2 linked regions of the Homo sapiens genome follow. The protein of the gene in region 1 interacts with the protein of each later gene in a pairwise test. Each region holds a gene or a part of one and is shown on either strand. Other genes may lie near its edges.

The links. Proteins that work in one complex are often made in the same cells at the same time.
Region 2: the proteins of CEP131 (region 1) and CEP152 interact in binary tests that used the Homo sapiens proteins (3 or more experiments, as listed by UniProt).

The regions. Positions count from the first base shown.
Region 1 is NC_000017.11:81,189,053-81,191,968, forward strand, and holds the end of CEP131 (centrosomal protein of 131 kDa), read right to left. Parts: intron 2,299-2,916; coding exon of another isoform or gene 2,284-2,298; coding exon 2,141-2,283; intron 2,033-2,140; coding exon 1,855-2,032; intron 1,751-1,854; coding exon 1,587-1,750; intron 924-1,586; coding exon 863-923; coding exon of another isoform or gene 792-862; coding exon 717-791; 3' UTR 544-716; downstream 1-543. UniProt on the Homo sapiens protein: Component of centriolar satellites contributing to the building of a complex and dynamic network required to regulate cilia/flagellum formation.
Region 2 is NC_000015.10:48,738,069-48,745,114, forward strand, and holds part of CEP152 (centrosomal protein of 152 kDa), read right to left. Parts: intron 6,925-7,046; coding exon 6,828-6,924; intron 6,276-6,827; coding exon 6,172-6,275; intron 4,033-6,171; coding exon 3,879-4,032; intron 3,637-3,878; coding exon 3,533-3,636; intron 1,221-3,532; coding exon 181-1,220; 3' UTR 1-180. UniProt on the Homo sapiens protein: Necessary for centrosome duplication; the function also seems to involve CEP63, CDK5RAP2 and WDR62 through a stepwise assembled complex at the centrosome that recruits CDK2 required for centriole duplication.

The DNA.
Region 1 (2,916 bases):
CCCCATCCTCATGGGTGGGCCCTGTCCATCCCCATTTCTTGAGAGCTCCAGACTGTCACACCTTGACAGCGGGGAGGGTAGGGCTTCCTGTCCCTCTGGAGTCTCTCCAGCCATAGGAGCACGCTGGCAGCCATGGGCTTCCAGCACCTGCAGGGCCACGGCGGGGCCCTCGGAGCTCCTCCCAGGGGGTGAGTTCTGCTGAGTTCCTCCTGCGCCTGGCCAGGAACGGGGTAGGGAATTCCCTGTGCTTGGGACTTCCAGGGTCCAGGGCAAGGCAGGGAACAGGAACTTGGGGGTTGGGTTGAATGCTGGGGAGCTGAGGGCTGAGTGCAGGGGGGCTGCTGGCTGAGTGCTGGGGGCTGCTGGCTGAGTGTTGAGGGCTGCTAGCTGGGGGGCTGATGGCCAAGCTTCGTGATTTCCTGGTCAGCCTGCTCAGGCTGCGGAGGGGAGTGGGAGGAAGAGAGCCAAACCCACGCCTGGCTGCTCTGGGGGTCTTGGGCAGCCTCTAGCCCAGGAGAGAAGACAAGGCAGTCACTCAAGGCGCTGAAAACAACGGCCTCCTTTACTGTTAAAATGCAGCCACAGGTGCTTAGCCGTGGGCATCTCAACCACCAGCCTCTGTGGGGGGCAGGTGGGCGTCCCTGTGGGCCTCTGGGCCCACGTCCAGCCTCTGTCCTCTGCCTTCCGTTCTTCGACAGTGTTCCCGGCATCCCTGGTCACTTGGTACTTGGCGTGGGCCTCCTGTGCTGCTCCAGCAGCTCCTCCAGGTGGTCGGCCCGCTTCACCGCAGCCTGCAGCACACCCACAGGGTCAGGCCTGCTCCCAGCCCCGAGGTCCAGCAGGGCTGGCCACAGGGACTCACCTCATGTTGTGTCCGGAGGCTGCTCACGGCCTCCTCCTTCCTCGCGAGGGCTGTCTTCACCCTGTGGGTAGTACATGGTAGGCTTCAGTGTGGCCCCCGCCCCATGTCCCCAGAGTGGCCTGCAGTGCACAGGGTGCACGGGGCAGCCGCCTGGTCAGCCTGGTCCCAGCCCTGCTGACCACGACTCCTGTGGCTGGCCCAGACAGCTGTCCAGGCAACCCACCTGCTGTGAGTCAGGACCCAACACAGGCCACTGGAGTATGACCCTGGCCACACCTGGGGAGGCCTGGTACCCAGATGGGGTGGGACACCTCGCCCACACCCACCTCTCAGCCTGTGGCAGCAGATGGCACAGGAAGGATGCAGGACCCCCGTGGAGGGAGCTCGCTGGGAACCTTACAGTGCCCCAGCTCTTTCAGCGCCTGTCCACCCAGCCCAGGGCCCCGGGAGCTGACTCCCTGGAGAACTCGCCAGGCCCAGACCCGACCCACTCGGGTGCCCCAACAGGGATGGCCGACACCCTAGACTAAGCACCAGGGAGGAAAACAGATCTAGGTCTCCTGGGCCCCAAACATGGAACCCACACCAGCCTCTGTCTACAGGGCCCTGTCTCTGCATCTCCTGGCCTTCCTCAGCCACAGCCTCCTGGGGCTTGGAGCTGCAGAGGTCCTGCCCGCTCCCCTGCCCCGCCTCCGTCTCCAGCCCTGCAGCCCCCGCCGCCCACCTCCGGTGCACCTCCTCCAGCTCCAGCTGCTGGCGGGCCTGCAGCGTGGCCAGCTCGGCCTTGGCCTGCCGCGTCTCCTCCTCAGAGGCTGCCAGCCGGTCCTCGAACTCCTGGCGGATCACCTGGGCCAGGTTGCTGCGCTCGCTAGAAAGCTGCTCGTTCACCTGGGTGGGCACAGAAGGCAGTGAGCCGGCTGCCAGCGACTGGCTGCGTGCATGCAGGAGGGGCCTGTGGGTGCCCACTGCCCACCTGACACCCGCCCACTCACCGCCTGCGCATCCTCCAGCGCCCGCTCCTTCTGCCGCACAAGGCCCTGCAGACGCAGATTCTCGCCCTCGGCCTCCCCAAGCTGGCCCTTCAGCTCCGAGCACCGCTCCTGAAGCTTCCGCTCCGACTGCTCCAGCTCGGAGAGCTCGGCCTCGTACTTGTCCCGTAAGCGCTTGATGCTGGAGGTGGGGGGAGGGCAGGGTCACTCCAGCCCAGTCACACACGGGTCCTTGCGCCTCAGCTCGTGGGCCTCCCCAGCTGGTGACCCAGCCATGGCGGGTCCTTACCGGCTCTCGGCAGCCTTCTCACTCTCCTCCTTGGCCAGCGCCATGTCGGCCTCCAGCCGGTGAATGACCAGCTCAATCTCCTTGTCCCGGCCTTTCCGGATTTCTTCCCTCAGCTCCTGTTCCCGGTTCAGCAGCCACGCCTCCTGGGGGGACATGCGCTGCCTGGGGGTTGCCACCCGGAGCCGGCCCGCGGGGCCAGGGCCAGCCTCAGGGGGTCCTGGGGGGCTCCAGGCTCTGAGCCACAGGGGAGCAAGGGGCCTTCCCCCTCTCCAGACCCCTGTCCAGGGGTGCGCTACGTCCTGTTGTCAGGACCCAGTGTGGGCATAGGCGTACCAGAGATCGTCATGATGCACAGCCCACGGTCCCCTCCCTCAGAGACCCACAGCCCATGACAACCTGAGGCCACCTTCTGCTACCAGATGGGATGGGAAAGTTGGACTTGCGTGTTGCTGAGGGCGGGGCCTGGGCCCCCAAGCCCAGGCATTCAGAGCCTAAGCTGGCAGCCTCCTGGAAGCCTCTGAAAACTCCCAGAGTTTCATCTGTCCAGCCCTGGGCCCCACAGGGCTACGTCGGGAGCATGCTACTGGGCCCAGAGGCATCCACTGCCAAAGCCTGCCTGGCTGCTCGGTGACATCCCAGCCCACCAGGGTGTGAAACCAGGTGACGGGCACGGTCAGCCTGGACTGTAGCCTCGCGGCGGGCATGGGTGGTGAGAATGTGTGTGGGACTGTCACCGTGGCAGAGTCCACCCCCCACAGAAGGCCCCAGAGGCTAAG
Region 2 (7,046 bases), on another chromosome or scaffold:
CCTTTGGAATATTAAGGCAACATAAATATCTCAAGCAATTTTAGAAGAATGCTTTACTTATATAACAGATGTTATTAAAACATCTCAAAAGAGGCAGGGCTCACAATTTTTTTCAGTATGAGGTCTTCCCTTCCATTTTTGTTAATATATTAATGATTCTTCTTAAATACTGTACCATAATTAGTCTAGATTAACAAATGGGCTATCAAAGCCACTATCTTGTTGGCTAGATAGCGGAACAATTAATTTTCTTGAAGGCTGCTGACACACTGAAGATGGTAATGTACTGCTCAGTTTTTTGAAATCTGACTTTAATCTATCAGCCTTATGACGAGATGGGTGTCCACAATTCACACTGATCTTTCCTGGCTCCAAATACGTGGTTTCTTCTGACAGGTATGGAGTTTGATAACGCTGACATTTCATTGTTTGACAAATCATATTACTTTCCTCTGTATCTGAAAGATAACCGGATGGTGAAAACTGTTTGGATTTAACAGATTCACTTGGTATTTCCAAAGTTCCTTGTGGCCTACCATGTACAAATGATGCTTCACGACTGTCAAAGGATAAGGTTGCACTGCTGGAAGGCCAGCCCAAGCAGTCACTAAGGTCCCCTCCATCTTTTACTGGAGGTTCCTGAACATCCAAACCTTGACTTTTCTCAGATGCAGCATTTTCACTTTCCATTAGTGGATTGCATTTATATACTTTTAAACCAAGTCTTTCATTAGAATCGCGAAAGGTTATATGCATGCATCCTGATTCAGAAGGACCAGGGGTACATCTAGGTGAGGGTTTATTTCCTAAGGTTCCAAGAAAGGGGTATGCAGCTGAATGCGGAAGTGATTCAGAACCATTATCACTGAGTAGGTCTTTCTTCTTGTGCAAACCAAAGCCTCCTTCACCTTCACAAGGAACAAACTCAGGAGAAACATTCCTTGGCAAACTGTTTAGGTGCTTGCAACTACCATCCCCAAACTGGAATTCCAAATGTGTCTCTTTGGATCCCACATGCTTTATGCTCTGATGCTCTGAGTTCTCTAACAGCCTTTGTAAGTTACAAGCTGCCCTCCTCTTGGGAGCTTGTTCGCACAGAGTTCTGGTGATGGTGTTTACACTATTTGATTTGCTTTCAATACAACATGGTATTTTCTGATTCACATCATTTCTTTTTGATTTTTTAACTGCAATCAGCATCTCTGAAGTTAGGGGCAGTGCTATTATGTGCAAGGAAACACGAAATTAAGAGAAAATTAATATTTAAAGGGAAGATTCATCCTTGAACAAAAAAATAAAAAAAATTAAAAATAAGAAAAAATTTATGTTTTTATACTGTATTCCCAAAGAATGCTTATATACTGTAATAATTCTTAAAGAAAATACATCAATGCTGGACATTTAAAAATATTCTTTTACATATATCCACTAGATAAAGCTTGGTAATTTTGTTACTAAGATCTGATATATAATTATTATTGCTATCCATCTGACCTATCATTTTCTGCAATAGATGTTATAGCAATTTCAAGATCCAGCCACAATGTTTTCAATCCTGCCCTGATTCTGATGTTAAGAATGGAGTTTCTGACAAGTTCGCTCAAAGAACCCCACCCACCCAATACCTACACATACACTTCTAGAATAGCTAAATAGACTTTCTGATTTAATTACCTAAGACACTAAATCTGATCAAAGACAAAGCAGCCACATAGCATGAAATTAGAGGCATTGTATCTCAGAGTAGCAAGCCCTAGAGTCCATGAAAAGGATTTGCTTCTCTACTGGGGACATTATTTGCACACTGTTGCCCCAGATCTAGAAAATTATTTTCTTGTTATATGTTACTGCCTTTTCATACCTAAGGTTCACATCACCATTCCAAAATTTATACAAATAATCTTTGGCTTGTACATGAGGAATGTTTACCAACATCAGACTCATGGACCCCTGAACAATCTCAGCTTCAAGTTTTCCAGAGGTTCAAGAACCCCATTTCCCCACTGATATGTTAAAAATCTCTCAGTGTGATTGGGAATTTACCAGTCTTTTTCATGTATTTCTATCAGCTCTTGCTTTATATAAAGCTGTATGATCTACAGAAAGAAAACAATTACAGTTTCTTGGGAGACTATTCCATTATCATTATGAACTATCAGCTTTGTCCCTTTTAATGCTAACTCTAATTTATCTAATCTTTTATTTACCTCTATAATTTATCTAATATCAACACTGCATTTGCTTGGTATATCATTCTCCATCCCCTGATTTTTAATTTTAGATGTTCTTCTTGTAAAAATAGCAAATTTCCACATTTTTAAAAACCCTATTTGAAAGTTGTGGTCTTTTAATAACTTATATGAGTTTAACCTACTTATATTTAGTGTGATTGTTGATGTTTCAAACTACTATTATGTCCTACTTACCCACGCTCTCTAGGTTTTTTTCCTCTTTCCTGATTTTGTTAGATTGAAAATGTTTTTTTCCAAGTTTTTCCTTTACCAGTTTTAAAGTTATACGTTCTATGTTTTTGTTGGTTACTCTTACTTTTTTTTTTTTTTTTTTTTTTTTTTTTGAGACAGGGTCTGCTCTGTTTCCCAGGCTGGAGTGCAGTGGTGCGATCACAGCTCACTGCAGCCTTGACCTCCCGGACTCAAGTGATCCTCCCATCTCAGCCTCCCAAGGCAAGTCGGCTCCCAGTTCCTGCTTGATATGGCTAGCCACCTGGAGCACTGCCCTGCTCCCAGATTCTTTGTTCCTGTTGTTGTTGCCCAGCTCAATATTGAGGTTGGGGAAAGGAGGGGAGAAGAAGAAATAAAGAGAGGATTAACCCCACCTGGTTGCTGTTGGTTTAGAACACCAACTAATTACCCCATTCATATCCCCTAGGCCCTCTATTTCTCCTGGAACATATCACCCTCATATGTGGAACAGTTTTGATATTGCTCCTAATTGCAATAGTCATCTCCCGGTGGTTTTGAACTGAGGTTTCCATCTTCCATCCTATACTGTCTTCTTTCTCTCAGGGATTTCTTGTAGCTTCTGGTCTATCCACTGCAAACTTTTTTTTTTTTTTTTTGAGACAGGGCCTCACTCTGTCACCCAGGCTGGAGTACAGTGGCACAATCATAGCTTACTGCAACCTCAAATTCCTGGGATCAAGGGATCCTCCCACCTCAGCCTCCCAAAGTGCTGGGATTACAGGTGTGAGCCATGATGCCTGGCCCACTGCAACTTTTTAAAACCCACTTATAATTTCTTCTTTTTCTCATTCTTTATTTGCTGTTTAAAATCTTTTCTATCATTTCGAGGGATGGAAGCAGCAATAGGAAACTGATGGGCATGCTCAGTCTGCCTACTTAAATTGGAAACTGTGTACTCTTTTTGCGTAAACTTCTAGTTTAAGTAAAACATACAAAACTTCACAAATTAACTCTCACTCCTTACCTTCCCTGCCTTCTTCATACTGAAAATATTAAATAGCTAAAGAAGAAAAGATAGAAAAACCATTTGGCGACTCACTTTGACATACCTGACTGTGTAGTTTTGCTTTGGGACTTACTAGAAATAGGTGTTTCCAGTAATTTTGCCATTGTAGCAAGTTTGCTAGCAGCATTCATAATCTTTTTCTCAGCCCTGTGGGGAATTCCAGAATATTAAAAATATAGTTTAAAGGAAAAAATGAGTTGCCTTAGCCCCATGGTTTCTGTTTTCCTATTGGCTCTGCCAACATTTAGGGTAGCACAGCCATAAACCTCTCTTAACCCCCTATGGCTGATCATGTAGAAATAGTTAATTTAGTGGTTAAGGAAAATGCTTTAAAAATGATAACATGTTGTCCTGGTAATCTCAGGACACATTGTTCAGACTGAACTCACCCTTCTTTTCCATCATCCTGCAAAATCTGTTGGAGGCAAATCAAATAATATTTGCGCATCTTTCGGGCGGTTTCTTGACGTTCTCGCAGTACCTCTGCTTTTACCATTTCTGCAGCTCGTTCCTTACTCTCCTGAATATAACGAAGCATGTCACCTATAGGGAAGTGAGAAAATGCCCACAGAATGTATGTTTATTAGCACTTTTTCAGAAACAGGAGGGGCAGACTTCAGATCAATTTTCTGGTAGATGAAGTGATTTTAAGTATAGTTTAAACATTATACTTTCCACAGTCATTAAAATGGAATATTTTAGATCATCATTTTGGTAGACTCAAATGAGAAGTACTCTATAAGTTCTTTCGGAATGATGACAGCTACATATAGTAAGGAAACATGGCATATTCCCCAGCTAAATTTTGTCATATTCTAAAACACTTAGCGAAGAAAATACTGTAAATATGAGGTACAGAAACTTAGTATTTCAATTGTACATTATGTCCAGTTAGGAAAAGAGAAAAATAAAATATAGAGAAAAGGTTAAGCAGAAAGAAAGGAAAAAGCAAACACAAAGACAGAAGAAAAGGAGGCAGTATGAGCTGGAGAGACTCATTCTTCTCTAGTGCTCTGAAAATTTACGTTCCATTATTTATTGAAAATTCTTTCAGCAGCACTTTTTGAGCATCTAACTAAATATAATATTACAATTCATAAGAGATATGTACAAAATGAGACTACAAGGAGGGTGATGGGACTTATAGTTGGCCTCTGAAATTTACATATAAACATAGCCCACAGCTTTCAAGTTTTTTTTTTTAACTCAATATATCTTTGATTAGGACTACTATTAGCTAAGGCTAACTTTTATTTTTTTTTTTAATAAATCCAAGACTACATCCTACATCTAGAATTTCACCATCTCTGTTATATTAAGGATACCAATTCATACAGGAATCTTCCTGTTAATGTCAGTAAGCATCTGAAAATTAGTGGTTCTATGCAAAAATACTAACTGGGAGACTGTTTTTCATTATTTGAAATGGAAAATGAAATGCAGTACATGTCAAAACAAAACCTCCAACCAACTTTCTAAAAAATAACTAAAACATAATATACACACATACATACAAGTTATCACATTAGGATGAAAACATGCTTAAAATTCCACTTCCCAATTAATACATTATTAACAAAAAGTTGCGTTGCTTGTAGCAATATGCCCTTTATTAGCACCAGTAACAACGGAGAAGCAAATTCCCTTATAAATACCGAATGAGCTTTGTAGAACATCTACACGTGATTCTGAATCTACCAATTATATTTGAAACTTCAGACTTTTCCTGCTCTTTTTGTTAAAAAGAAATGTAATTTTAGGAAGTTAATATACATTTTTCCTATATAAACACTACTTATTGTTTTGGGACATATATCCATTCTATGCATATTAGAATTAGAAACCAAGAAGTATTCAAAACAGGGAAAACACACATCAGGAGAATGCTCTACAGGATATGCTGGCACAACCTGGTACTGACAAGGACTTGATAAATTTATAGCTATGAGAAATAATAACCAGAAACAACAGAACAATTGCTAACTAGATCCACTTCTACAGTCCTTAAAAGTTTATGGTAGGAGGCCGGGCACAGTGGCTCACGCCCGTAATCCCAGCACTTTGCGAGGCCGAAGCGGGTGGATCACCTGAGGTCAGGAGTTCGAGATCAGCCTGGCCAACACGGTGAAACCCTGTCTCTACTAAAAATACAAAAATTAGCTGGGTGTGGTGATGCATGTCTGTAATCCCAGCTACTCAGGAGGCTGAGGCTGGAGAATTGCTTGAATCCAGGAGGCGGAGGTTGCAGTGAGCCGAGACTGCACCACTGCATTCCAGCCTGGTTGACAGAGTGAGATTCCGTCTCAAAAAAAAAAAGTTTATGGTAGGAAGTAATAGTTAATTGCTCATTTAAAACCCATGTGACATTTTCTTTACTACAAATTAGTTAAGTTGTAAGATTATTAACTTTTCAGTTTAATACTAGTGTCCAAAAAGAAACAAGAAAATCAACAATATAAACATAAGACGATTCTCACATCACTTCCAAAAGATATTATTTGGGAAAAATGATCAATGACTACATAATTTTGAAAAGGTATCAATAATCTCTTTTAAGATTGAAGAAAAAGGTAATTTGGAAAATTCCCTAGAAGAACTACTGCTGGTAAACTCTGAGTTTACTTTAACAGTGATAATAAAAAAGGCCCAAGCCATCCTTAAAATCTTCAGAATTAAACTTACATTTAATTTTTTTTACAGCTTTAATGTACTGCCCACGAAGTTCTTCCAAGGCTCCCCCACTGCATGGCAGGCAAGCATTTTCAATGGCCCCTGCTGACAATGACCTAAAAAACAAACCAAAGATTACAAAAACAGAAATGGTAAGTGAAAAATTTCATTTGAAAAATATATATGTATCCATATACTCTAATAAAGTTAACTGAGAAGTGCTAAAAATCTCATCTAGAACAATCTCCACTATACAGTTATTTAAAATAGGGGAAAAATGGAAACAACATAAATGTTATGGTTGCTTCAATAAATAACAGTAAATCCACATGAAAATTTATGCAGGTATTGAAAAACATATGTAGGAGAATATCTAATAACATGGAGAAATGCTTATCTAGTAATATTAATAAAAAGTTATAAAATACCTTATACTATAGCCTCAATTTTAAAAACACATTGTGCATGTGGAGTATGTGTAGAAAGAGGCTTAAATGATATAAAACAAGAGGTCACTAGAGGGTATCTTCAGGAAATAAGGTTTTGGGGGATTTTCTTCTTTTTTATACTTTTTGCTGTATAACAAAAAAAATTGATACTTAAAAAAATTTAAAGATACTTGTACTTAGATTTCTTTAAAATAGCACTTTAAAATAGTAAAAGTATACCTTGGTGGTGTTTTACAAAGTGTTTGCAATTCTTCCAATTTATTCTTCATGTCGTTGTTTTCTTCTATTAATTCTTCAACAACTTTATTATTCTCTTCTATAACAGAAAGTTTATAGTATATTAGACAGTTAAAAATTTTTTAAGCCTTCTTTTCCCTTAAGTTCCCAATACAAATGTTTATAGAAGAGACTGTGCAATTTCCAGTCGCTTTTCTGTAA